3 separate regions of the Homo sapiens genome follow, and all the other regions are reported to be linked to region 1. Evidence: microRNA targets listed by miRTarBase, many of them from high-throughput screens and not tested one by one. Region 1 holds a microRNA gene; each other region holds the end of a gene's coding sequence. Distances are from middle to middle.
The links. Region 1 holds the annotated microRNA hsa-miR-128-3p (UCACAGUGAACCGGUCUCUUU, at 3,595-3,615, opposite strand). A microRNA usually pairs through its seed, bases 2 to 8, with sites in the 3' UTR of a target mRNA and lowers its output. Matches are read on the target gene's strand: a 7mer-m8 pairs with bases 2 to 8, a 7mer-A1 pairs with bases 2 to 7 and ends in A, and an 8mer does both.

Region 2: the mRNA of MPRIP is a reported target of hsa-miR-128-3p. Seed matches in the 3' UTR shown: 7mer-A1 at 2,228-2,234 and 7mer-A1 at 1,139-1,145.
Region 3: miRTarBase lists SUPT7L as a target of hsa-miR-128-3p. Seed matches in the 3' UTR shown: 7mer-m8 at 5,115-5,121.

What each region holds. Positions count from the first base shown.
Region 1 is chr2:135,661,652-135,669,060 of GRCh38, reverse strand. MIR128-1 (microRNA 128-1) reads right to left here and starts at 3,664; the gene lies at 3,583-3,664. The region is part of intron 19 of R3HDM1 (R3H domain containing 1); the gene reads right to left. LOC124907893 (a long non-coding RNA gene) reads right to left here. Exons shown (of 2, transcript XR_007087245.1): 1 at 2,504-7,409; 2 at 1-1,300. RefSeq lists an enhancer at 4,247-4,346.
Region 2 is chr17:17,184,338-17,191,746 of GRCh38, reverse strand. It overlaps MPRIP (myosin phosphatase Rho interacting protein), which reads right to left. Exons shown (of 24, transcript NM_001364716.4): 24 at 1-6,924. The coding sequence ends at 6,853. Among named protein-coding and RNA genes, the nearest start is that of PLD6, 18 kb to the left of the region's middle. RefSeq lists enhancers at 1-616, 5,359-5,428, 5,459-5,658, 6,446-6,946.
Region 3 is chr2:27,647,438-27,654,846 of GRCh38, forward strand. SUPT7L (SPT7 like, STAGA complex subunit gamma) reads right to left here. Exons shown (of 6, transcript NM_014860.3): 6 at 3,372-6,310. The coding sequence ends at 6,048. It overlaps GPN1 (GPN-loop GTPase 1), which reads left to right. Exons shown (of 14, transcript NM_007266.4): 13 at 399-506; 14 at 2,678-4,074. The coding sequence ends at 2,763. Among named protein-coding and RNA genes, the nearest start is that of SUPT7L, 12 kb to the right of the region's middle. RefSeq lists an enhancer at 5,170-6,369.

The DNA.
Region 1 (7,409 bases):
TAAAAATATTAAAACATAACAAAAGACAATTGGGAAGGAGAAGAACTGGCTCAAATAGTGACACTATTTCAGGTTCCACATCCCACAGTTCTGTCTCTCAGCCTGAGTATTTCCAAGTGAATCTCCAATGTTCCCTTTGGGCTTTAGTTTTGCTGTTTTGCCTCGGAGGCTGCTTTTGCTCAAAAAGTCTGTTGCCACATTCCAGATGAGTCTATACAAGATTAGTCTAGCAGAGTTTTCATAGATACTGGCTGTCTTCTCCACAAAGTCAGGCTGCTTTGCCAAGAAGTCAGACTTTACTCAGCAGGGCAGTGCCAGCTTTAACCTGGACACATTTTGTGCAAGGAGAGCTGCTACGTTTTATGGGCGAAGTCTTGAAGTTCTGTGAAGCAATGACTTTTTTCCATCCACTGAGTAGCATTTCATTCATTTTTACATCCAAGGCAGGAAAATTCACCAGGTTTAAACTACACTGGGTAGAAAGCCATCAGGGTCTGAAGAACTGTTCTAAACTAACACAACTAAAATTGTCATTTAACATTTGATGCTCAGAATGATCGGTACCCCAGAAGGGAAATTCGACTGGCATTAGGACAGGAATATGAATGTTTTTTCCAGAAATCATGATGAAATGTTTTATCACTCATTCTAATAATTATAACATACAACACAGCAACTGGCTAAAAAGTATATAATTTTGAATTATATTCTCTAAAGAGCAGAACATTAAAGATTACTAAAAGATTATTGGTCTTTTTCTAATGCAGTGCTTAGCAGAAAAGTACTCAACAGGCATTAACAGGCTAACATTTGTTCCAATGAAAAAGAAAATAAAACTGGGATCTATGTTGGTTAAAATTACTATAATCACAAGCAAAACTAGAAATACTCAGCTGGAAAGCACTAAAAACAAAAAAGCCCACATCATTCTCCTAATCCAATCAAAGATAAGAACCTTACTCTTGCCTATGTAAGACAAAATCATTAATAAAATAATTGTTAACATAAAATAAAGGATCATTTAATTACAGGTATGCCTCACATTATGTACATTTGCTTAATAAAATTTACATCTTGAACTGTTCAAGTTGCTCATGAATTCCTCTGAACTTTTGTTTAAACAAAGAAATTTCAGACTGCTGGGCATGAACCGTTACAGAGTGACACCTAGAGAAGTGGCATTGTAGGTTAGGTTCCTTGTCTAATTATTCAGACAAAAGCAAGAGTGGGTACAGAGTTCTCATAGTGTCAAAAGTATAGTTTGAAGACTGCCAAGTTTGAGAAAGAAAAATCCAATGATCTGGAAAAGAGGGAGAAGGCTGAGGATTAGGAAGGAGAAGTAGATTTCTAGAGAATGAAAAGTATCAACAGGTTTCAAAAATGCTACAAGAAGAGTATTTCCAGTATCCCGACTCCAACTTGGCTACCACATAAATTATTCTTTCTTCACTAAAAAGTATATTTTAGTATATTAGAATTAAAAAAAATTCTTCCTGTGATACATCTGAATTTAATCTGGAAAGTAGAGGAAAACACTATATCTTTTATAGGAATTTACGTCAATATTGTGGGAAAGCCTCTATTTTGTAAAGTAAGAAATGCCAATAGTAAGTGATACCAAACAACAAAATAAATATCCAGATCTCAACATAGATTTTTTTTTTTAAAACACTACCATTCTGTTTTGTTAAAGGACTGCACTGTTGCAATATTATCCCATTTCTTTCAGCACTTTCAGAGGAAAGCACAATCAATTCTGCAAGCTAAGAGAACTAGGACAATATAAACTGATGGTTCAGGAACTTCCCTGGAGGGCTCCACAGAATGTTCTATTTTTAACTCTCACTTTAACCAAGAAGAGAGCAGGAAGGAAATGCAGTGCTCAGCACAAAAGTATTGAACAGGCATTAACAGGCTGATTTTATTTTATATAGGTGATCTGAACTAGCATTTGTTCTAAAGGAAAGCATTCTTAATAACACAGAAATAATCAGAAAAATTACAAAAAGTATTAAAGAAATGCTTAGAATACCCATGAATCTAAGGTTATTTCACTTAATAGTACCTATTAATTTTTTTTCCAGACTGTGCTTGTACAATAGAAGCACTGTGAAGGTAGTTTTCTTTTTTTTTTTTTTTAAAGATGAGCCATTTTACTAAAGCCAAATTTATTTGTAACTAGGCATCTACAAGACCAAATTGTTAAAACCTCAAGCTTATAATCTTGGGCTTCTGTCTGTGGCACTATTTTAGTAGGTGGGCAAGTTCAACTAAAGCCAGCCCCATGGGTGTATTTGGAAGGAGATGCAATTGCCATCACACTTGATTATCCCTTCTCATCTCTCATCCCCTCTTCTCTCACTCCTGTGCCTGAAATAAACATATACATATACAAAAACCAATTCTAACAAAAACAGTCACACAGAGTTTATTGCTCACAGCTATTTAAAGAACTATTCCATGGAAGAGTCTATACAACTCAAGGAAATCTGTGGGTACTTACCAGATATATTTGGCTCCAGATTTCAGTGGCGGCAGGTTAATGGAGAAGGGAAAAGGGAAATAGGTGGATTTGTAGGTATTATACAATGTCTGAATCTATGCTGAATCACACAATACATACTAAGAAATGCTCACAGAAATCAATGAAAAAACAAGAATAGCCAGAGCCACTACCTAGTAATTTACAAATACAAAATTCCTATTACTTGGATTGAAAGTTGTCAGTAAAGAAATTGACTTTGTGCCTTGAGTCCCTATTTGACATAGCCGACTCTCCTATCAATAAGCCCCCTCACCTGCTTACCCAGTAGTGCTGACTTTTCTTTGCTCGCCTTTTACACCCTAGTTACTCTTAAATTTGTGCCTTCAAATTCTGTCAACAATATGCACACATTGAAGACTGTTTATCCTAACAAGTTTCTTCCATAGTGTCGTTCATCAGGATCCTACCATAGTCTGCTGGTAACAAAGCTTAATCAACTTGGAACCATATGATTCTGGGTTATCTGGAAAGCTAAGACTAAAGATATAATACATTGATAATCTTTGAAGTTATCAAATGGTTGCAAAACTAAAAGTATAGTTTCACAGAATCATTTTGCTTTCCACAGGTATGCAACAACATCATCGTTTGGAAAAAAAAATTAAATTATATCGTTGGTAAGAACCGAGACCAAGTAGCTTCAAATGCATTTAGGTGTATTAGGTCCGTTTGATGTCATGCTTTCATATATAACAATATCCCTAAAAAGTTGTGTAGCAATAGGGAGAGACATATTTGACTTCTGCTAATGAGTTTGGTATGCTTAAAACATTAAGCTTTTTAGATAAGCTCAAAACCAAACTGAATTTGTCATCCAAATCTACTTTGGAAAAGAAATAAGCAATAGCTTTCACAAATTTTTAACAGGTAAATTATATTAGGCCAAAGATGTCACTTAAATTCTAATCCCTATTTCTGAGTATGATGCATGATTTAAAGGTATTACAATTAATGAAAAATATAAACAAATGTTAACACCTTCATACAGCATTAAAAAAAGCAAAAAAGCAGTGGAAACCTGAGTAAAAAGAAGCCAGGAAGCAGCTGAAAAAGAGACCGGTTCACTGTGAGAAATGTAAACCTCTCAGACAGTGCTACGGCCCCGAATCCAACAGCTCAGGAACAAGGCCAATTATTGCAAAATATTAAATGTATATGGTGAAGCTACAAACTTGTCAAGAGTCATAAGAATAATAAAAGCTACACAGAAAACAGCTAGGGCTTTGTAAACCTAAAATCTTCACTATAATTACTACCTGCAGAAAGTTTCTTTATACTATACCACACTCCTTATATGCAGTGTACTTCACAGTATTCAAAGCATACATTTTATGATAAAGGTTTAAAGTAATAAATCTTTATTAGTGAAACTGGTAAGTAATCTGATCTTTTGAAATAGTTGCTTTCATTGACTCCAGTTATTGACAGTTGGTTGCCAAGCTGTTACAAACCAATTCTCTATTATTCTACCTTTTAGAACTAGAAATGACTCACATGAGACACAAAGAATTATGGAGTTTTACAGTACACAGAGGCTTCAACAGACAACACAGTAAAAATTCCATACTTTGCAAATGAGTCCAACTGAAACTCAGTGGCTTTAAGTGATATGCCTAACACCAGTTACAAATGACTAAGGGCCATCAGGATTCTGACTTTTATTTTGTTGTTCTTTCCCATTATACAGTGCATTGTTCAGAAAGTCTTATGTGTGTAGCCAGGGTTTCTTCTGTTTCTGTTGACAGGGGTTTACTCAACCTTGTTTTGAATGAACAGTTCAGTAGTTTCACATTCATAACAAAAGACTAGTACATTCATTTCCCCAGCAGTAATGTTAGTCCTGATTTCAGTTGTGGTCCACTGGGACACATGGATAAAAGACCTAGAGCATTTTATCCTTGAGATATTTCCCCATCCTCCTCCCTATCCACCAAAGGAAAAATAATGAAAGATCCTGTATTTCTACTGCCCATACCCTATCTGGTCTAAAAATACTTTGCTCAGTTGGGCTTGTTAATTTAGGGCAAAATTTCTTTAAGTTCAAATACAAACTTTTAAACATTACTTGTGCCACAGTGAAAAAAAATTGCTCCAAGTCTACTAGTGTTTTCATTATTTGGTTGAATAATTAGTTTCACCCTTTTATGTAATTAAAAAAAAACATGCTTCTTGACACTGTGGGGTAAGCAAGTGTTGTTTGACAAGAAATACAAATATAAGAGATATGAAAAAGTATTTCTCATTTTTAATCAGATTGGGATAGTAGAATGTAGAGAGGTAAGAAAATAAAAACCAAAAGGAAACCCAGAAGTATGTTTCCATATAAAAATGTAAATTATGAGACAGTAATTGCTATATACCTGTAAAAAAACTCAAAAACAATAAACTATCATGTTAATTTCCCAGTACATTTTACTTTTCTACACTAGGGCACATACAAACATAAATGCACACTTTTCTGTTAAGTTTTTTTTTTTTTTTTTTGAGACAGTCTCACTCTGTTGCCCAGGCTGGAGTGCAGTGGCGCCATCTCAGCTCACTGGAACCTCCGCCTCCTAGGTTCAAACGATTCTCCTGCCTCAGCCTCCCGAGTAGCTGGTATTACAGGTGTGCGCCACCATGCCCGGCTAATTTTTTTTGTGTATTTTTAAAGTAGACACAGGGTTTCACAATGTTGGCCAGGCTGGTCTGAAATTCCTGACCTCAGGTGATCCACCCGCCTTGGCCTCCCAGAGTGGTGGGATTACAGGTGTGAGCCACCGTGCCTGGCCTTCTGCAAGTTTTGACATAAAAATTAATGATGAGCTAACTATAAAAAAGTCTTTAGATTATAACTTTTAAAAAAGAGTTCAAATCCCCACTAATTCTATGAAAAGGTTCAATACAATTACCAACACAACAGTTGGCACTGGCCCTGCTGAACTTTTCTTTAAAGGAAAATTTTCTATGATACTTATTAGCATAACAAAATTCCTTTCTCTTTTAGATAAGAATGCTTTGAGGATTTATTCCTTTTATTCTTCAAACTGAATGAGTCAACTAACTTAAGCTGTAAGTTAAGAGGATACTATATAAAACAGCTGAAAGGACAAGTCTAGCTTTTATAAAGTGTTATATTATGACTGACTCATAAGAGTCAAACACAATGTCAAACATTTTTCAAAGACATGATTCTCTTTTTTGTGCCTGTAGCACTATCCAGATGCAACCTGATTTATTGTTTCCTCCTTCTCATCATAACTAGCATCAGAGAAAACCCCATAGTTAAAAATATGACCAATGATAAACACATGCTATCTGTCACATAGATGTTTTCACCTCCAATCAGGCATATTTAGTTGAATTCTATTAAGTGTCATATTTTTTTTTTTTTTTTTTTTTGGCAGAGAGGCATATATACTAGCACACTAGTCCCAACCTGTGATTGAAAGTGATTTTATAGGCAGTTTGACCATGGACAGGGATAAAAATTTTGCCATGTTGAAGAACAAAATTAGTAAGCTAACACAAACACAGAACAAAGGATTTTTGCTTGCCTTATTAATAGAGTGTACTAATGAATTAAGTTAATTAGTCACACGCAAGGATATTTAAATGAGTAGCATGAAGGTACATTTCTTTATTATGGCATCAGCTACAGTCTGTGTTATAATTTTGGAAGAAAAAAATCAAGAAAAAACAATATGAAAATTCTATTACTTGAGGTCCAGAAAAATTCAGAAAATTGTTTCTGAATAAAACACCAGTGTATATAAAGCTAATGAGCAGTACCACAACCAATGTTCCCACGAATAGAGAATAACTTTTGATACCTTTTGAAATTATATCATATACTAGTTTACATTATTTGACGTGGACTGTGTTATTAAATTTTAGGTAGCTTGGAACTAAAATTCTAACTTGGCTAAAATGACCAATGTTTGTATTCAATGTTCTTTGGAAGAACATTTGTCACATGTACAATACAAGGCTAGTAACATACTAAAAAGGGGAGAACCTGTAAACTAACAACGAGACAACTCCTAAGGGTAACAGATTAAGGACCTGGAAGTTATCCTGCATGGCTATGCTAAGCATGAACTATATCTAGCACAGAAAGTTAGTGAATCATGATCACTGAAGACTGCAACAATAAAGAGAAGTATGACTACTATTCATCAGATGGGCCAGTGCAGAGATGCTTCTCCTAAACTGGTGGTAACCCTGACGAGTTTCACACAATATCAAGAGCAGTAAACAGCCTCAGTGGAGGTGGAGGTTATGGGTTCCTCAGTGAGTCACACTCACATAGTCAGGGAGCCTCCAATAGTGATAAGCAGTTAAGAAAGCTCTAAAGAAACCAATGATAAAATTCCACTTCAACTCCTAGAGTTATAAAAGGCTGAATAAATACCTTATTAAACATCTGGGAAGTACACATCTAGGTGAGAAGCATACAGAGAAATGAGTTCATTAAAAAATCAATAAGATAGTTTTATACACTGAGATCAAAATTGTTTTCACTGAATGCTTGAAGAAAATCTGCAAAGTGCTAAAACAAAAACAATGCTGAGTTTTAATAAATTTCATTTAAGTGGCCTTAGATTGTATTTGGTTTAAAAATACTTTTCACTATCAATCAATAAACTGAAAAGCAAAACACAGAAAATATGCTAAGTACATCATTTCTTTTAAAGGCATGCCTACTAAGAGATCAAAATATCATCCCTAGACTAGGGTTCTCAATCCAAGTTAGGTGGTTTTGATCTTTGCTTCTGGTTAGCCATTCATAAGTCACCTTGCCTCGCCTTGCCTCTCTTTTGCTGTTACCATAGGTGATTTATCAGGCTGCAAAGACAGTTTCAATCTCAATGGCAGTAAGAGA
Region 2 (7,409 bases), not on the chromosome of region 1:
CACCACTAACTTCTCAAGGGCAGTGGGGGGCAGGGAGTGATGGGCGTGACCGTGAGGCTGCCAGCGCTGTGTGTGTGGCTGCGCCTCCGAAACACCCTTTCCTCAGGTGGCCGAGCTGCGCCTGGGGAAGGCCCCCACTGAGGCTGTGCCCGAGGAACATGCCGTGTCCACCCCTTGGGACTTGGACGTCCTCTCAGGCCATCCTACATTACTGGAGTCTCCAATTCTTAAGTATTCTGTGACTCAGTGTTTCCTTACCAATCTGACAAAAATAGGTGCTGTAAAAAACAGCTGCATCTAAGTTCTGCAGCCTCCACGGAATTCCAGGATATGACCAAAGGGCTGGGGAATCCAAACAGCTCCAGTGCTCCACAGAGCCCTGCCCAGTGAGTGGTCTTGAAGGTTCTCAGAAACTGCACATTTAGACCCTGATCCCAGAACTGTGCCTTCAACCAAGTCTCCCTAGGATAGCGTTAAATTACTGTGCAGAAGTCTGGTCAAGATGGCACCATCATTTTCTTAATTTTCCTGATTTTCCTTAAGGACTCTGGCTCTACCAAGAAGAGGCAATAGAGAATTCTTTCAATGAAACAATGTATGGATACAGGGCTATCGTTATTTTGGATATTGTACACTTTAAAACCATCTGTTAGATGACCAAACGTTTTACAAAGATGCAGCAGTCATTAAAAACATTTCCTTATAATGCTGGGCGGGCTTCAACGGTGCAGTCAACCCTGTTCTCCCCATCTTAAAAAGGGGTGTCTAAGATTTTTTTAAAAACCCATACAAACTCTGTCACAAAAATCCCTGCAGTAACTTCTCAGTAATATTTACATTGCTTGCTCTAAATAATATACAGGTTATTTTGAAGAAAATAAACACAGCTGCTTTTAAATACAGAGAAATTGCAAGCTACACCAAGCATGCAGTAGCTTAAGTATTCACAAAGTACTGCATCCGAACACCTAAGGACTCGGACCCAAGACGTGTTCAGACAGAAACTTGCCCCATCTCTAGGGATGATCTAGTGTTGAGCTACTGACTCCCCTACCCTGCCAAGAGCCTTTTCTTTTGTTGAAGGATTTCAGAGAAGGGAGATGTCTTCCCTTTACAGAGAAGCAAGAATACTTGAAGCTCACAGTTCTGAAAAGGGCAAAAGAATGAACAGGGTCTTGTCCCTGGCAGACAAAATTTGAGATAACTGATAATGTTCCTTTCCATGCTGGGTTTATGCCAGGCTTTCCTTTTAAAGAGCCTACAGCACGGTATTACTAGCCTTCAGCTCAGGCTGGTTCTTAACTGCCCATCAGCTGTGGACACATGCCCTTGCTGAAAGCTGTTTGGCCCAAATGTGTAAACACAAGAACTGTACAAAGGTAAAACGAAGAGCCCCCTCTAAGGGGTGGCTGCAGAACAACCTGCCGTAGCTGCTGTGCAAGGAAGAACGGCCATCTCAGAACGTTCTGTTGCTTGGCATTGAGAACAGTGGTGGCCTTCACCTTTCGATGTGAAGATGACCGTTCACTGGATGAAAAATCTACTGAGTTTACATCTTTAAAGTGGGTGGTGGCATGGAGAAGCCAGGGGAAGGAAGAAGTGTGCTTGTATATGGCACCTCCAAGCCTGAAGTCCGTGGAAAACCCACGTTCAGCTGCTATTACCTACTGGAGACGCTCGCGCTGAGCGGGCTAGGAACCTCTCTAGAGAAGAATGCTGGAGGGCAGGAAAGCCCAGGAAGGTGAAAGGTGCGAAAACAGTGGGTAGATACCTTAATTCTAAGGAACTTTTTAATAAGCAAGTTCCCAGCAGCTTTCTTCCCAAGTCCTTTTAGAAAGTGGGCTCTTTTGCCAGCACTGAGAACCTTCGCTCACTTCAGCTGAAAGGAGAAAACACAGGGCTGATCCCAGCTTGCAGGGAAGGGGAAACGAAACGTTGTCTCTGGCCTGTGTCACCTCTTAGTGCTCCAACAGGGACCTTAGGGCAAGTTACAACTTGTTTAGAAAGCAAATTCCTTGTACAACAGACCTATGGCTCCCCTAGCCAGGACTTTTATCTCATGCCCTAAAACGAATGAAGTTCCCAGGAAAGTGAAGCTTCTCATCAACATGACAAATTTTCTTTAAAATTTCAACATCAAATTCCTTTGAAGTATAATATCATACATTTCCATTCTTTATAGAACTTTGACAATACTTAATTTCTTTCTCCCTTAGTGACAAAGGGGTCACAGTTTTTTTTTTTTACCGTATCTTATAGGCCAGGCGTGGTGGCTCACGCCTGTAATCCCAGCACTTTGGGAGGCCGAGACAGGCGGATCACGAGGTCAGGAAATCGAGACCATCCTGACCAACATGGTGAAACCCCGTCTCTACTAAAAATACAAAAAAATTAGCCAGGCGTGGCGGCAGACACCTGTAGTCCCAGCTACTCGGGAGGCTGAGGCAGGAGAATGGCATGAACCTGGGAGGCAGAGGTTGCAGTGAGCCGAGATCATGCCACTACACTCCAGCCTGGACAACAGAGCGAGACTCTGTCTTGAAAACAAAAAACAAAAAACAACCCCCCTCCACCCAAAAAAACCCCCACTATATCTTATAAAGGAAAGTCTTATAAATTCCAAGCTTCTTTAGGACCATGTTAGGCAAACTCTTCTTTTCAGGAAAAGTTAATGTTGATGTGTCACATTCTTTTCTAAGTGCGAACTGTCTTAGAACTTACCCAAGTCAGTGAATGAGTAGCTGGGAGAAAGGGGTATGTGGCCAGCCATTAAAGTCACCCAACATACAAAGGAGCAGGGGCCAGCAGAGCTTCCCCTACACCCCAAATTAGGCTGCAGGTCATATGCAAAACCTAGGAGGCCAAACAGGATTACTTGTTTGTGTAGGGACCTGGCTGCCAACAGGGACCCCACACAGGGTGGCCTTGGCCTCCAGGGCCCTGCAACACCTAGCGGGCTCTGCTGTGTCCCAGCTCCGTGGCACCCGGCAGCCTCCCAGGAGACAGCCAGGCAGGAGTGATGATCAGGATTGTGTTCAGTTTTCAGCATGTTTCCATGTACCCAAAAGTTAAGAGTCCCATCTACCTCTATAGTAAAACAAAATGATAGTAAATACATTCCATAAAAATGTTTTTCAAGCCATCAGTTTTGTTTCCGGCCTTATCTGTCAGTATTCCTTTCAGGCACATTCTGAGATTCACAACTGTGTTCTTTAAACAGCCAAAATTCCCTCTTCTCCAGCATGAGCTGGAGGGTCAAGGGGTGATGGGAGCTGGTGGCTGCTGCAGAAACAGGTTCTTGCTGGGCCTTCCAACTCACTAAGCAGGCTGTGGGGCCTTGCTCTCCATGCTCTTCTGCCTTCATACTTGCTGAATCCGAAGGCAAGATCCTCTCCGATGTTACCTCTTGTTCAATAAACCTGCAAATTCGCGATACTGCCACCTCTAGTCGCCCTGGGATGTCCACTGCATCACCCACTTAGCACAGGCCCATTATGACTCCCTGAAGCACAGGCTTCCAGCTCAGAGGGCAGCGCACTGTCTCCACCCCTGCCCAATGATCCACTCAGACCCGGGAGGCTGTGGACAGCGCGTCCTCTGAAATGCTGGTCTCCACACCTGCCTGGGGCTGGGGCACCATGGGTGGATAAAGAAACTGACCAGCAGAAAGTGACTATTCTGCACGTGCAGGCGTGCACACAAGGTAATTACCCACAAGCCTGCAGAAACTCACACGAGCACAACTGCCTCGCTTTCCCATTCATATGTGTGGCACAGCTTACTGGCTGGTGCTAGCATACTACACATAAATACATTTATAGGAAAATAATTAAAATGCTGAAGTCTATCTATTTGAACTTCTTCCTCATCGGTAAAGCTGGGAAAGCTCACTACTGTGTAGCTGGTGCCAAGGAGCAGCCTGAGACCCCGCCTGCAGCTGTCCCTAAGACTTTCCTCTCCCCATACAGAAACCAGTTCTACTTCTTCACTGTTCTTCTTTCTTCCCTCTGGAATTCAGGGGTTAAATCCCTTCCAGGGTATTTGGATGCCTGCAGGAAGGAAACTGGAGAGAGGGCCCAGCCCTGTGCAGCACAAGGCTCCCTGCTCAGTGTGGCACCAGTTGGGCAGCCGTCAACATCTGTGCCAGTGTTGCCACCTGGGCAAGTCTCTGTTCCTGGGGCATGTCCAGGTGCAACATGAAGAACATCGTCATCCTTTCTCGCCTGGTTCACTCCATCGCAGGATGGAGCCCACCAGCAGGGAACCCAGACTTCCTTGACCCAGATGGTGGCTGTCCCTGTATGAGGGCTCTTCAGAAACGCCAGGACAGGCCCAGGGCATTTTCAGGAGCTCTTAGCAAAGCAGCCTCAGTCCGTTTCCTGGCAATACCCTACACTAAACCAGCCTCTGGGGAGAGACCTGTGGCAGGGAGGAATGCAGACGCCCTGCTGGCCTGTCTCTGACCCCTCACATGCTGCACTCATATTAATTTTCCAGGATTCCTGAAGTCCAGCCTCAAGGGATATGTGACAGAAAAAAGGGAATCAAATGCTCTTTTGTCCTATGGGCAAACTTGCTTTAATTTAAAGCACTGTGAGGGCTGAAGGCAGATGATCCTGTCTCCAAGCATGGACTCTGGCCAGAACCCCCTGGAGGGCAGAAGGCAGGGAGCTGTCTGCAGAAGGGCCAGTGGGGTCCACCCCCAGGGGCAGCAGGGATGGTCACGAAGGAAACCATGCCAGGAAGGGCAGGTGGTGGACCTCAGAGAACGGCACAAAATCGTAGCACCCAGACACGAGGCAAAAACTCCTATCTGGTCAGATCCTGATGCACTCCAGGTCCCTGTCTGTCCTGGAGCATTCGTGTGACCCAGCAGTGTCCTGGAGACAACAATGAGGCTGTGGGGGACAGCGGGGTCCCGAATGTTCCTTCTGTATATTCCCATTGACACAGAAAGGTCATAGTGCATTTCTCAAAGCACTGCCAATCTAAATGGTCAGGGGGGGTCTGATAAGTATATCTATATCTGATATGGGGCCTTGCTTTGTCACCCAGGCTGGAGTGCAGTGACACGATCATGACTGATTGCAGCCTCGACCTCCCGGGCTCAAGCAATCCTACTACCTCAGCCTCCTGAGTAGCTGGGACTACAGCTACGCAACTGTGCCACCTCAGAGAAGTAGATTTTTAAACAAACCCAATTTTCTCTTGCTGTTAACAACACTGAAGACTAGTAGCAGAGGAGTGAAAGTGTGGGTTAAGAGCCTTAAAAACTTGTGGAAAGGGCTCGATGCCAGTGGAGAGCACTTAGTTATTTCAGTGAGAAGAGAGCACCTAAACCTGGGTCTGAAAACACATGAAAACTCCAGGCCTTGCTCCCGGCCCTTCTGCACATTGGGGGCGGGGCCAGAGCTCCACTGATGGCCTTGCTCATGACTTCATCTAGAAACTGAGCAACAGGATTTCTAGATTTCAACGCCCAAAGCATCCACCCACCCACAGAGACCATCACACCAACACAAGCATGAATACAAAGTGAAAGCATGTTCTTGGCATGAAAACCATCTACTCACACCCCACCTTGCTCCTAAAGTAGCAGAACCTGTTCCACCAGCCAGGGGTTTATACTCCCTATCTTAATGGGATTAATGGTTTTCATGGGGCCATAATAGACTCCAATTTAAGAGATTTTCAAGAATTGCCATAGAATGTTTTGTGGTGGTTAAAAAGGTCTTCCTCAAACTGTTAGAAAAAGCAAAATTGTTAGTATAGGTTTACTTTAACCAGGCTCTTTTAAAGATAAATGCTGCAAGATAGGTTTTCAGAGCTCAGATTAATTAAATGAGAGTTAAGATCGGAGTCTCAATAAACACTAATGTGCTGTTCTCATCAGATTCTGACATCCTCTGTACTTTCTTCTTGACTTAACAGGGGTCTCCTCTCAACCTTTTCCAAAGCAATGTGACGGTTTCTTTTCCAAAAGGTAAAAAAAAAACCCAAACCCCCAAACCTTCCCCCATTTTGAATGATTCCTGGGGGGAATTCATTTGTTTTTTGCAATCAGAGTCTGAAACCTGGGCTGCAGGTCAACAATCTCGAGCAGTTATGAAAAGACCAGGGTTACTGGAGACCAAGAAAGGAACGAGCGGAGGAAGGAAGGAAGGAAGGAAGGAGAGGGGCCGGGGATTTTGTGCAAGATTTAATAAAAAACAAACAAAAATAGGAATGGTTGCTTTCAACATTTTCCAGGTTGTGAAAGGTTTGCCACGACTCTCAGGGGTGTGGTTCTAAGCTGCATCAGTGGAACAAATACAAAATGCTGTCCTCCTCCTGGGCTGGAAGGCAGTGCACTTTCTCCTCTTAACAGCCAGACTAGCGGGTGAGGAGTCAGTGCTGTGACCCAGGCCAAGCTGGAGTGTCCGCATAGCTTTTTCTCTGACCAGTGGGGATTCCATCTACCTTGAGGCGTGCTGGCTGGGCCCCGTTTCCACACCAGCACATGGTGAGACAGGGTAGCTTATCAACAGGCTGCTGGGCCTTAATACTGACAGTGAGTGTGGCGGGTCACAGCCAGGAAAGGACTAACACAGATGCCCTCCCAGCCCCCACTGCTGGCCTAATTTTAGAATACCACGGAAAAAAGCTTTGATGAAGACAACAGGAAGTCAACACAGCAGAGAGTGGTGTGGACAACCCAGAAGCCAGCCTCACGCATTCCATGCCCACAGTTAACGATGACAACAACAGCAATAATAATAATAATAATAAAACAAAGGTACAGGTGAAAAGCAGCGCTTGGGGTGTGCTGCTGCAAGCTGGGGAAGGCGCGTGCTCAACTTGGATGGGACACACCTAGTCTTTCTTCAAGTCCCTGGATTCAAAGAGCTTCAACCGTTCTTGCACCGTCAGGCCTTCCTTCAGACTCTGGGTAGAGACAGAGCAGGAGGAGAAAATAAACACACCGTTAGACCCCCTGCACTGGACCGGACCGGACCAGACCGGACCGCTGGTGGAGCCGGCATCAGTCAGAGAGCCGGGTGCAGGTGCGGTTAGTGGGCATGCCAGGAGGAGAGTCCCCGGGAAATGCTGTTATTGGAGGATGTTTTCCCCTTCACAAAATTACTTGGATGAAAAAGGAAAAAAAAATCAGAGAGACAAGACCATGTGTTTAAGCAGCTAAATTCTGAGCTTAGGGCTCTTTAGAGAAGCAGTGATCAAACGAATCCAGCCAGGGAAAACAGTGCAATGAGCAAGGAGACTGCCCATCCCCGTGTCTTGTCTTGTGAATGGATTTGTCCACATCCAGCTCCAGAGATTCTTCACCTGACAGCCTCAGCTGAGGAGGACCAGATGCTCCAGGGAATCCCCAGCAGGATGGGTGTCCCGGGACAGGGCCTCGCTCCTACAGT
Region 3 (7,409 bases), 110 Mb from region 1:
CAGGAGGCTTCCTTAGCACTCCACACTTTCACTGTGACTCACCAGCACACTGGATCTGCTCAAATGTTGTTAGCTTTCATAGGAAAAACCATCACCCCTTCCAAGCTGTGAGCCAGTAAAAAAGAATGATGCTACTAGTAAGACAAGCTTCTTGAAAATTATTTCCCTCAGCTTAAAAAAATGGGACTCCTAGGGCTATTTGCCTTATGAAAGCACTTTGTGAACTAAGCTATTATAGAAATGTTAAGTGGTATTAACAATACATTTAGAAGAGGTAAGATCCTGCGTTTATATGTATCATGAGCACTTTCATCCTGCCAGTTTATGATCATAGTTACTTAGTGATTCAAGATCACCTTTTTGAGGAGGCATATCACTGATAGGTGTTTTCACTGTAGACAGCTTATCTCCTGTGCTGCACCCTTCTGATTTGATCCTGACTCGAGGAACCTTGGATGAAGAGGATGAGGAAGCAGACAGCGATACTGATGACATTGACCACAGAGGTGAGAGGTGGCTGAGGTGGCCCGTGGCAACAGAGCATCTGCTTATCCTCACATTGTTTGCCCAGGAGTTTCTTGCTTTAAGCGTGTAGCCAGTAATAGTGGATAAAGGATACAGCACCAGAAAAGAGTTTCCTATATTGAGAGTTCCTGTCCTGCCTACTGGATGGTTAATACTGAGCTGATTACAGGCCTTTCGTTGGTCTTGTGTCTTCTTATCTTTAGGTCCTAACTTGGTTTGAGGGATCCAGGACTTTTGTTTGTTGTTATTAGTATTTTGTTTTAAGAATATGTAAGGGCTGGGTGTGGTGGCTCATGCCTGTAATCCCACTGCTTTGGGAGGCCAAGTCAGGAGGATTGCTTGAGGCCAGGAGTTCTGGACAAGCCTGGGCAACATAGTTAGTCCCACTCTCTACAAAAAAGAAAAAAATAGCTGGGCATGGTTACTCACACCTGTAGTTCAAGCTGTTTGGGAGGCTGAGGTGGGTGGGTTGCTTGAGCCCAGAAGTTTGAGGCTATTATGAGCTATGACTGTGCCACAGAACTCCAGGCTGGGTGACAGAGTAAGACCATCTCAAAAACAAAAAACACAAATAATACATAAGGTTATATGGACTAAAACAGTAAGGATAGAATGGCTCTGGAAACCCAAATTCCACTTGGCATAGTTTTATGGACTGTGCGCAGAATCTAATTGTTACTATTATTTTTTTGAGACAGAGTTTTGCTTCATTGCCCAGGCTGGAGTGCAGTGGCACGATCTCAGCTGACTGCAACCGCTGCCTCCCGGGTTCAAGTGATTCTCCCACTTCAGCCTCCAGAGTAGCTGGGACCACAGGCACATGCCATCACAGCTGGTTAATTTTTTATATTTTTAGTAGAGACGGGGTTTCGCCATGTTGGCCAGGCTGGTCTCGAACTCCTGGCCTCAAGTGATCCGCCCATCTCGGCCTCCCAAAGTGCTGGGATTACAGGCATGAGCCACCATGCCCTGCCAGAATCTGATTCTTGAAACAACCATAGGCCGGGCACGGTGGCTCACGTCTGTAATCCCAGCACTTTGAGAGCCAAGGTGGGCGGATCACCTGAGGCCAGGAGTTCAAGACCAGCCTGACCAACATGGTGAAACCCCATCTCTACTACAAGTACAAAAAATTAGCTGGGCTTGGTGGCAGGCACCTGTAATCCCAGCTACTTGGGAGGCTGAGGCAGGAGGACTGCTTGAACCTGGGAGGCGGAGGCTGCAGTGAACTGAGAGCTCACCATTGCACTCAGGCCTCGGTAACAAGAGTGAAACTTGATCTCAAAAAACAAACAAACAAACAAACAAAAAAACACGAAAACCACCATACGATTTAGGTCTTAGCTATGGCCAAGAGCAAATCTCCTTATTCTTTAGGCTGGGTTTTACATGTAAATTGCCTTATTTAATCAGATTTTTTAAGATGTAGTTTACCAACAGTGAAACTCACTTTTTGAGTATATAGTTTGATGAGCTTTAATAAATATATACTTTCTTGTAACCACAATCACAGTTGAAATGTAGAGCACTTCCCTCACCCCCCAAAACTTCCTCATGCCCCTTTTTTTTCAGTCCCCATCCTGAACACCTAGTGCCTGGCAACCACTGACTGATTTCTGTTCCTTTGATCTTGCCTTTTCCAGAATGCCATAGAAATAGAATCACAGTATTTAGCCTTTTGCATTTGACTTTTTTGACTCAGTAGTGTAGTCTCTCCATGTTGTTGCATGTATCAGTATGTTCTTTTTTATTGCTGAGTGATATTCCATTATTGTGGATGTTCCACAGTTTGTTTATCCATTCCCCAGTGGACTGATATTTGGGTAGATTTTAGCTATTATGAGTAAAGCAACTATAAACGTTTCCAAATAGATCTTTGTGTAGACGTATGTTTTCATTTCTCTTGGTTAAAAATACCTACAAGTGGGACCTTATTTTAGCTACTATGAGGGAGGTATTCTTTCTACTTATAAAGAAACTACATTTTGGGCAGCATGATAGAGCATGCTTCTAGGAGACATTTCCTTTTTGAGGGAAGTGAGTACTTAAGTTTCTTAGAAGTAATGTACTGTTTTCTGATGGATGGGTGACGGGCTCTAATCAGTTTGTCTAATGAAAGAGTTGAAAAAGAATTGCCCTTTTTTCCTTGCAGTTACAGAGGAAAGCCATGAAGAGCCAGCATTCCAGAATTTTATGCAAGAATCGATGGCACAATACTGGAAGAGAAACAATAAATAGGAGACTTTAGCACACTTCACTTGTTTCTAGAAGTCCAGAATTTTGGACCTCCACGTGAAAGAACTGTTCTTACCTCTGAACTGGGGGCTCCCATAAGGGATAATTTTCCTCAGAGTAGCAAAGTTTCTCTTATTAGAGAAATCTTGTGACTCAGATGAAGTCAGGGATAGAAGACCCTTGGACCTGGCAGGTTAATGCTGATTATTCCTTGGCCTTTCCCTTGTATTTATGCAAGGAAGGATATACTGAGCTGATACTCTTCCAAGCCTACAACTTCAAGTTTTATCATTTGAACTCAAGTACTTTTGCTGCTGAGGAATGGAATCAAAAGAACGTAGTCTCCTGGTGACCACCTCAGATCTCTATTATTAGGCTAGATGTATAGCCTCTACTCCCCCAGCTTCTTGCTCTTGACCCTGCACTGTAAGTTGCCCTTCTATTAGCAGCCAAGGAAAAGGGAAACATGAGCTTATCCAGAACGGTGGCAGAGTCTCCTTGGCAATCAACCAACGTTGCTATGAAATATGCCTCACACTGTATAGCTCATTATAGGACGTCAGGTTTGTTGAAAAAAGTGGGCAAGACATGATTAATGAATCAGAATCCTGTTTCATTGGTGACTTGGATAAAGACTTTTTAATTTTAACTTTGTTCTAAGACTGCTTGTCATGATTTCAAATTAGAAAATTATATAATTGCAAACAGCTTCACTTCTCCTGTTCAACAGAGGCTTAAGGCCAGATGTCCAAACTTGTCTCAATAAGGAGGTGATATTTTACTAAAGTTTCCCACGTGCACATACTGACTAAATACAGAGCTAGGCCCAGTTTGTATTGTACTCTGAACTTAATGCAAAGTCTCCTTGGTGATTTTCGCAAAGTCCGTGGATTTGGGTCAGAGGCACATTTCATACATAACAGCCCTTATAAACGTTTGCCCTGCCTCCACATTTTACAGTATCTTAAAACAGTACATTTCTTTCAAAGAATTTTATCTCTATGAGTCAGTACTCCAACTTAGTGGTTCTCACATTGTGGACCAGGAGCATCAGCATCATCTGGGGAATTGTTCAACTTACCTCTTATAACCTATGAACTCAGAAACCCTGGGGGTGGGCTGAGCAGTCTGTTTTAGAAAGCCCTCCATGTGATTCTGATGCATAGTAGCCTATGACATAATTCCAGACCAGGTGAATCTCAAGATACTAATCCTCACATCATTTGCCTTCTCATATTTCCCTCGTCTTGACCATCTGGTGCCTGTTATGCAGTTTAACATTCTGCAGCAATAAAAGTGTTTTATTATAAAGTATTAATTTTAATGTTCTATACTTAGTGGGAACCACTGGTCTCAAAATTTGAAGCTATTCTTTAAGAGGAGAACATTCGCAAAACTCAAGCATACTTGGTTTTTCTCTGTAGTACTTTTGAATGCTTTATCTTCCTTACAGAATAACTTGTCTTCCTTATGCTTCAAGCTCCAAAAGGGTAAGGAAGAAGTCTTAATCATTTTTGTATTCCTTGCACAGGACCTAGCAAATAATTGGTACTCAATGTTTGCTGGATGAATGAACTAAATTCCCATACGGCCACTTTATGGAAACTAACTGCCTAATCGCCACTTTCATTATAAACAAAGGAAAATGAAGATAAGACTGCAACAGAGGCCAGGTGCAGTGGCTCACGCCTGTAATCCCAGCACTTTGGGAGCCCGAGGCGGGCAGATCACTTGAGGTCAGGAGTTTTGAGACCAGCCTGGCCAACACGGTGAAACCTCATCTCTACTAAAAATGCAAAAATTAGCTGGGTGTGGTGGCATGTGCGTGTAATCCCAGCTACTCAGGTGGCTGAGGCAGGAGAATCGCTTGAACCTGGGAGGCAGAGGTTGCAGTGAGTCGAAATTGCACCATTGCACTCCAGCCTGGGTGACAGAGCAAGACTCCATCTCAAAAATAAATAAATAAATAAATAAATTAAAAAAAAGACTGTGACAGAAAGGGTTTAGAGAAATGTGCTAAAGAGTTACAATTGGCAAATTTAAAATTATATGTTAAACTATAACCTCATTTGTATCATATTCATTTATTCTCAATACCTGGGACATTTAAGGCATTCAATAATGAATTAAAGCTGTGCCTTATTTTGGTCTGCATTAAAGGAGTGGTCTAAATTTTACAAGATATATTTTGCATCAGAAAATCAAACTTCAGCAGTTTAACATGCTGGCATCCATCACCAAGGCATGAAGCAACACATTTGCTAATGATTCCTAATCACTACAGTGCTACATCATTTACTTAATAAATACTGATTCAGTACTTATATATACAGATAGTCTGATGGATGAGTAACCACAGTGATGTTGTTCAGGACATGATGTAAAGTTGAAAGGTGCATATTGCTATGTTTTAAAGGCTGCCTTTACAGTAGAAGCAGCAAAGTGTGCTTAATGGACTGCTGTCCTCTGATGACCAAGCAAATGCAACAAATGAAATATGCACAAGGCTGTCCTTGGACAGTACTTGTTTGCTTTGCTCACAAAGGAGAAAAGGAAAGAAACAATTGAAAATATGTATATGGTGAAAGTATGTGAGTCCGAGCAGAAATAACAAAGGCAAAAGGATGAGGAGAGATGGAGTAAGTCTAGAGAAGAAAATAAATGGATGAGATAGAGAGCTGTCTAAGCAAAAAAGGTGTCAGACCTCTGATCTTATAAATAAGACACTTCAAAAGTAGCAAAAACAGTTTTAAGAAGGTGACTAATAGATAAGGTGTGTTGTGTTTAGCTATTTCCTGTTAGGTATTAGTAATGGGTTCCCAATGACCTGAGCCAAAAATGAATCAAGTTAAATGAAAACTGACATCTGATATGAGCATATATTATTAGTCTATTCAAGCACAGTTTTGAAGTTAGCAAACATCTAAATCCTCACATCTCTACAAGGTAGGTCAAAGTATGATTCTTCTCAGTTGTACAAGATAAATGGCTGTATAACATGTCTAGTCATAGTTAAGACAACAATTGGGGACAGTGCTTTGGTCTGATTGCCATGCCAGCATCATATTTTATCTGTGAAGGGTGGCTTGGTTGTGGAAAACTATAAAAACTGGATGCAAAAGTAAAATGCAACCTTGTTTGGTGACGTCCAGTTCCTCTGGAATTAGGAAAAACCACTTGTGTTTAAGAACAGGAGTCAAATCAATTTTTAAGGAAACAGATTCTAATACAAAAACCTTTTCTGTTGGGTCTAGTAGGTCTGGACAAAACATCTCCCTCTTTTCCTTTTATATTTTCCTCATCCTCTTCTTGCAGCGCTGGTTGAAAACAGGGGAGGACCCCATGAGGCTGTCAGTGGAGTGGGAACCATAGCTGCTATCTGAGTCATCAGGGCTCTGAGGAATCCCAGCTTCACTCATGCCTGACATAGGCTCCTCGAAGACATCACTGCCCAGCACACCATGCCCAGAGACATTGCCTTCTTCACTTTCTTGAGGCTCCATTTTCACATGGGCCAGATTCCAAAGAGGAGAAGCATTTACCTCTGCACCTAGAAACAGAGGAAAGATGGACATACACCAAGTGTATATGTGTAGCCAAGTGTAGAACAAAGAGTAAATATATCACTCAGAACCAACTAATATGCTTTGAGCTCAGTTTTCACTCTGATTCTGTACTTGGCTGGAGAATATGGTTGTTACTCTCTGCTTCAAAAAGTTAACCATCCCAAAAAATTACCAGCTCTGATTATCTTCTTTTCCATTTCTTCTACCTTTCTTTCCTCTACCTCACCCACCCCCATTTCCCCTAAACCAGGGAAGTGAAACTAGGCAGGTGGAAAGATCCCCTGTCTCACAGCCCAAAGACATGCACAACCACAGGACTTGTTCAGTTGTTTAGTTTGCCTGTCCTTCCTTCCTTCTTTTATGGGGCCATCTTGTTTTCCTGCCTTTTGTTTGGGTCTCTGGTCATCTCTTGCATTATGAAAAGTTAATGGTCACTACATAATGCTAACAGCAGTTCTCTACCTGGTCTTCTTTGAAGAGACATGGTCCCGAAGTCCGCAACAATTTCTCTTTGGCCCTCGCATCTCTCTATGTATTCTAGCAATGCTGTTCTCTTATGGTTATTCTTCCATAGTGAAAGGCTCTCTGCCCAACACTTTTAAAAGTATGACCTAATTCCATTTAGACCACATTTGAGGATTTGCTATTTGAGTCATTTGTGCATTGATGACAATTTATACTTGTAAACAACTGAGTGTCCAGACTAATTTGCAACCTAACTGACACGTAACCAGTCAGTTGTCCTGGCTCCTAAGGTAATCACAGAGTCTGGAAAAAGAAGCCAGCTACCTCTAACTGGGAAGCCCTATTTCTTTTTTTTTGAGACGGAGTCTTGCTCTGTTGCCCAGGCTGGAGTGCAGTGGTGCAATCTCGGCTCACTGCAAGCTCCGCCTCCTGGGTTCATGCCATTCTCCTGCCTCAGCCTCCTGAGTAGCTGGGACTACGGGTGCCCACCACCACGCCCAGCATATTTTTTGTATTTTTAGTAGAGACAGGATTTCACTGTGTTAGCCAGGATGTTCTCGATCTCCTGACCTCGTGATTCGCCCGCCTCAGCCTCCCAAAGTGCTGAGATTACAGGCG